2 linked regions of the Homo sapiens genome follow. The protein of the gene in region 1 purifies or fractionates together with the protein of each later gene. This does not show direct contact. Each region holds a gene or a part of one and is shown on either strand. Other genes may lie near its edges.

Region 1 (2,855 bases):
TGTGTTCAAGGCAAAGCCCCACTTTCCTGGCTGAGTCTACTTCAGCCATCCATATTGTCCCCATTCCTAGGACTGGTTCACTGTGTACCTCTTAACACCACTCAGCTCTGGAAGAGAGTCCTTACAAACGGGCCCTCCTTGGCTGAGTGTGGTGGCTCACACCTCTATGTAGACCCAGCACTTTAGGGGGACTAGGAAAGAGGATCACTTGAGTCAGGAGTTTGAGACCAGCCTGGGCCACGTGGCAAGACCATTTCTACAAAAAAAAAACTTAAGAAAACTTGTCAGGTGTGGTGGCATGCACCTGTAATCCCAGCTACTCAGGAGGCTGAAGCAGGAGGATCACTTGAGGCCAGGAGGCCGAGGCTGTAGTGAGCTATGGTTGCGCCACTGCACTCCAGCCTCCATGACAGAGCAAGACTGTTTAAAAACAAAAATGAAAACTGGCCCACCTTGTCCCAGGGACCTCCCCTGCTTCGTCTGGTTAGAACCTGGCACGAATGCGCTTTTGTCTCATCCTGAGTCACAGGCCTCAGTTCACGGCCCTTTCCATACTGAAAACTCTCCATACGTTTCTTTTAAAACCTTTTATTCAATAATATATACTTTTAAAATAATAATATGTAACTGCCGCCATGCCACATACTGCGCCCGTCCCCCCACTGTGGAGTCTGTGGTCAGCTAGTTAGCGTGGTTTGCTGGAAAAACAGGCGGCCACGGGACGAGTCGAGGGGCTCGGGGAGCAACAGTAACCAACAACATTCTGCATACCCTTCACATTCCCCATGCTTTCTGGGTCGGGAAGAAGTCAACAGGAAGCCAAAGGCAAGTGAGCCTTTTACATTCGGAAGTGAGGTTTGATATACGGTGGTGGGCTGCCCTTCGCTTGGTCTAGTTCGTGCTCGCCAAACCTGCCACCGTTTTGTGTCTGCTCACGGAACGTGATCTCTCTATACGCGTTAAGACGTTTGATTTGGTTCTTGTTCTGCTTATGGAAAAGTGGGAGAACCGCAACAGACCTGGGGAAAGAGACGGGAGGAGGGAAAGACGTCATTAATCAACCTGAGCGGGCGAGGGGAGGCCTCCACGTGTAGGAGGGCCTGTGCTAGAATGCAAGCTCGGCCCTCCCATGCCACTTGGTGGAGAACCCTGTGAGAACTCGCTGAGTTCAGGTTTCCAACAGTACCCTCTGCCTTCCTCTTCTGATTATCATGACAGAGATGGTCTCTAGCACGGCCTTCTGTCACAGGACGGGTGCTCTGGGCACCACGTGTGTTGTGACCAGGTCTTCCACTCTACCCCATCCCTCGGGTCCAGGGTGCTGATGGAGAAGCCTCAGAGCCTCTTGACCATTCTGTGCCAGTCAAGCTACAAATTCAGCAGTCAGCTCTAGGTCCCCCTCAGACCTGACCTGATTATCTGAGGTGTCTTAGGACTAAGACGGGGTCTGTATTTACTCAGAAAAAGGGCTGAGTCCACTAATAAACAAAGAGCAGTAAGTGAGCTCAAATATTTTTAACTCTCCCCTGGAAACAGCTAGCTGCCTGGCATGGCCTGAAAACCTCATTTCTCCTTCCAGGTCCAGCATAGCAAGTGGGTGGTGAGATGCCGGCAGTGGAATTCTAGAAGCAGTGCCTCCCAGAACAGCACTACAGTACTGAGGAAGGACTATGCACCTGGGAAGCTGTCACACACACAAAATCATTTCATGAAAACTTTCTTTGGGTAAAGGAAGGGTTCCACTGCGTAGTATTTGATTTGAGAAGGGCTGCATGGTGCATGAGGTTAAGAAAGAAATGACTATATTTGCCTTTAAACACTTCAGCTGATTCCAAGCACCCAACTTCAGAGGCTCAGTGAGAAGAAAGCACACTAATTAAAGAAAGCACATTAATTAAAGATACCACCACCTGCCAAATAATAGCATGTGCTGCAAGGAATGGGGCTAGGGAGAGTGTTTCACAAATGCAGAGCACCAGGCCACAAGGTTAAAGTCATGCACTAAAACAGTCAATCCCAAGAGGCAGGTGTCTGAGTGGCGCGACTCAGAAGCAAGTACATAAAAACGGAACACTCCCAACAGGACACCACTCTAGCCCCACTTCTGCCAAAGGAAAGTTTTCACATCAAGGTGTAACACACATCTTTGCAATTCAAGGTTTATCCCTCCCCTCTCCCCCAAAGAGACAGGAAATACAAGTTAAGGTCCTCATAGCAATGGTTTGTCTCCCACTTGGGAAGGCTGGTTATTGTCAACATTTTTATTTAAGAAAACAGGATTTAACATGGCATTTTTCTTCCCTCTAAGGGCAGCAGCACATAAATCATACATCAGTCATCCAGTGATACAAAGAGGTGGCCAATTGTGTCTGAAGTAGTCACTTGTAAAGGATCACAACCCAGGCAGTGTTGCTTTTCTGCAAACAGAAGGAAACAGAAGGCTCCATGGTCCTTGAAGATTATCCAAGTTTTCCACTAGTTGTCAAGATTTCTGTCCCAACCTCTTAGTCACCATTTACAGCAAGAAGAGCCAGCAAGTGAAAAACTGTTAATTTATTGATTCAAAGTTGTTTTTTTTCTTTTTAAAAAACAATCCCCAATACATGCAGTTCAGGGTTAAGTATCACATTTGTAGCACATTGTTGAGTCTCAAAACAAAAATATGCATCACCTGTATAATCCCATCACATCTTTTTCCAGCCTCTACAATACCTAGTTGGGGGTGTTTTCATTTATACATCCACATAGCTCAGAAGCATGTTATTAACGGTTGATCTGGCCCGATGCTTCTCCGCCACCTCCCCTGCCCTGGTCTCCACCTCGGGGTTATTTTTTTCTAAAGGCAGGATGTTACT
Region 2 (3,655 bases), on another chromosome or scaffold:
ACGCGATCTCGGCTCACTGCAACCTCTGCCTCCCAGGTTCAGGCAATTCTCCTGTCTCAGCCTCCCAAGTAGCTAGGATTACAGGCCTGTGCTACCACGCCTGGCTAATTTTCATATTTTTAGTAGAAACAAGGTTTCACCACATTGGTCAGGCTGGTCTCAAACTCCTGATCTTAGGTGATCCACCCGCCTAGGCCTCCCAAAGTGCTAGGATTACAGGCATGAGCCACCGCACCCGTCCTAGAGCTAGTAAGTTTTAGGGCAATTTTTTCTGCAGCAACAGATAATACAGAATCTTTATAAACTCTTTGTTGAAATTAATTCCCTTCTTCCTAAACAGTAGCTTCTAGTTTCAACAAAATAAACCCCTCTGAATTCCCAAAATTGCCAGGGGGAGCAGGGGGTGGGAAAAAAGCACAGCACACCCTCTGATCTGAGAGCTTGCTAATTCTTTCATACTCCTAACCACAGAAGACTGTAAAGTGAGAACTGAAAGAGTAACTTATACCTGTTCCAATTATAATAAGGAGGTACAGAATTACTTTATCACCTACAATCAAAAGTTGGTATTAATAAATTACCATCTGGGTTTGTTTCTCCCCATTTAAGAGCTTATTAACCAAGTAGCTTAATAAGAGGTGTTTTTTGCATCTAATTAATAGATATCTTAAAGTTTATGGCTTACATCGTCATTCTAAAAAACTTTTCTTAGTAAATAATAATGCACTTAACAAAAATAAAAGTTGTTTCAGAATTTAGAAAAACGTGGAAAAAAGTCACTCTTAGATCTACTGCCCAAAGGTATTTTTGTTCTATCGTTTTCCAGTTTTTTTCCAGGGTAGAGGTGGCACACTGGTAACCCTTTGTAATCAGACTTCTGAATCTAGTAGTAAACAAGACTGAGGGAGAGGTTATTCAGAGAAATATCTCACATCAGTTCTGAAATTATTCCTATAAGTAATGAGAATATATAATAAAAGAATTTCTTTTTCAGTTTCATTCAGACAGTGCCATGAAAGGCAGCAACCTCCGCAGGTTGACAGGTTCGATACTGTGACTAGTACAATCAGGTATACTTTGCAGAGACAGAATTTTCCTCAGGACTCTGCTATTGAGCTGGGGGCTGTGCCTCAGAGAAGTCCACCCATCCTTTCAAGACTTCCCTTTTCTTAGAGCTAACAGTGATTCATCTTCAGGTAGATGGAACGTCTTCTCACAGTAAATTTTTAAAGAACATGGATTCTGGGGCCTGCATATCTAAGAATGTCTGAGCCACTGCACCCAGTCTTCAACCCCTTTTAAGATTTTTCTTTCCTTAGTCTTGAGCATATGTGAAAAAAAGAAAAACTAAAATAAAATATTTTTTTAAAATCTCCGTCTCAGTAGAAGTCTCTTCTCATTAATTTTCGCTTTTAATCTTAAGACTTAATTTTTCAACTCAAGAACACTTTTTTCTCTTCAGTTGTATCTTCTTCTCCAGCACTTTGGTTTCTTCCCTGGGAATATTTACATACTCACAGACTTGGTCTCTTTGTTTAGAGCTACTAAGTTTTAGGGCGATTTTTTTCTGTAGCAATAGAGAATACAGATGGCCTATTGCCAAGATTTCCTCAAACTACAAGGCTGATAGAACCACACTTGACAATGAAATGGAGGCCCACGTTAGAAGTGCTGAGCCTGCCCTGAAGGTAGATAGCAAGCCCCTGCATCCTTTCTCTACAGTCACCTTGCAGTTCAGAAATGCAAGGCCAGTTTCAGTCAGAAAATCAGGCAGCTACAGGTTGAGGCAGGGTGTGGTTCTATCCTTCTCTTCCCATTGAGCATCATTCAGTTTCTTTTTTCTTTTTTTTTGAGACAGAGTCTCGCTCTGTCGCCCAGGCTCGAGTGCACTCAAGTGCAGTGGTGTGATCTCGGCTCACTGCAAGCTCCGCCTCCCGGGTTCACACCATTCTCCCGCCTCAGCCTCCTGAGTAGCTGGGACTACAGGCGTCCACCACCACGCCAAGGCTAATTTTTTTGTATTTTTAGTAGAGTCGGGGTTTCACCATGTTAGCCAGGATGGTCTCGATCTCCTAACCTTGTGATCCACCTGCCTCGGCCTCCCAAAGTGCCGGGATTACAGGCGTGAGCCACCACGCCCGGCCTGAGTATCTTTCAGTTTCTATTTGGTGGCTCTAACTCCCAGAATACACTTGGATAGGGAAGCTTAGTGTTTTCTGTGTGTATTTGTGTTTGAGGGTAGGAAGCAGTTATAGGGTATTGAGTCCTAGAAAGTATAGTCTTCAAGAACAAAGATTCCAGTTGACATGGGCAGAGAAGTGCATTCTGGAGACAGTACATTCTGGAGACTGCAGTGTTTTCTACACCTTCATTTACGGCACACTCCTGGAATGGGGTCAGAATCAAGCAGTGAGGGTTAGATGATCCTATCTCAGTCCAGCATAGCTGTATGAGATAAAAGCCTCCCAGTAGCACTGGGAGCACTGGGCTAGGGGCTCTGCATATTCTCTTGGCCAGCTGTAGATCTGAGAATGGCAGTTACCTATGTCCACGGGAGTAGAGAAGGGGACCAAGGGTAATCTATGCACCCTTGCTGGCAAATACCAAGAGGCCTTTGAACAAATTCTGCGAAATAAGAGAAAAGGGAATATCATTCTAAAAGTTGAGAGAAAGAATGAATCTTTGAAGATGACTGCCAGTGGGAACCACAAGAATTCAAGTGGGCAGTTGAGGCTACTTACCAGTTAAGACATTACAATGGTGGGAAGTAGACTGTGACTGAAAAGAATCGCAGCATCTCAGTGTTACAAGGGATCTCAGAAGCCTTCAGTTCAACCTTCTCAACTCCACAGCAACTAAGTAAGCGGTCATCAAGCCCATGTTTGAATCCCCCCACCTGATCTAGAAGTTATTACGCATTACATGGTGAAACAATTCACTTCATTTTTACAGAGTCCTAATTTTTAGAATCTTATTTTTTAACCGCAGCAACATTTAACACTCTGTACTCTCTATCCCTGAGTTCTGTCCTGTGGAGCCACACAGAACAATCCCAATATTTCTTTTAAGAGGTAGACTCTTTTACGAGATGGATGTTTCTTTCAAGAGATAGACCTTCAAGTACAATAGTATCATATCGACCTCCCAAGCTGTGTGTTTTAGTTGTCCCTAAGGATACTAGCAGAACTGTGAATATACCCACATAAGCACACTATGCTAGCTATTCGAGAATCTCACATGCAATACTACCAACTGCAACAATGGTAAATATATTCTTGGTCAGCATCCCTACTTACAGAATAGAAAACAGAACACCCCCACCTACCATACATATTCTTTTACACAGCTCCAGGAAACCCTGATTAATGACCTCCACTTGCAAAGGAGGCTACTTACCTTAACCATGAAATAATGAATGCTATTGATCCAACAAGCTACTGCTATAGAGTGTTATTGATCACCCAATCTTTGGTTAAAATGGTCCTCATTTAGCAATTTCACTGTCACAAACACCTGGAGCAAAGCACACTCATAATTAAAGAGTTTGGGGGAGTTAAAGTGAGAGGTGATGGACAGAGATCTCAGCTTTCTCCCACTTATTCTTGCTTCTGAGCTATTGTTTGTATCAGAAGGGATATTGATTTTCTATAAAAAT

What was found.
Region 2: the proteins of CSNK2A2 (region 1) and GPATCH2L purify together in Homo sapiens (affinity purification with mass spectrometry; 7 studies listed by BioGRID and IntAct, with this or other methods). This does not show direct contact.

The regions. Positions count from the first base shown.
Region 1 is NC_000016.10:58,157,335-58,160,189, forward strand, and holds the end of CSNK2A2 (casein kinase II subunit alpha'), read right to left. Parts: exon of another isoform or gene 1,020-2,855; 3' UTR 573-1,019; downstream 1-572.
Region 2 is NC_000014.9:76,158,340-76,161,994, reverse strand, and holds part of GPATCH2L (G patch domain-containing protein 2-like), read right to left. Parts: intron 1-3,655.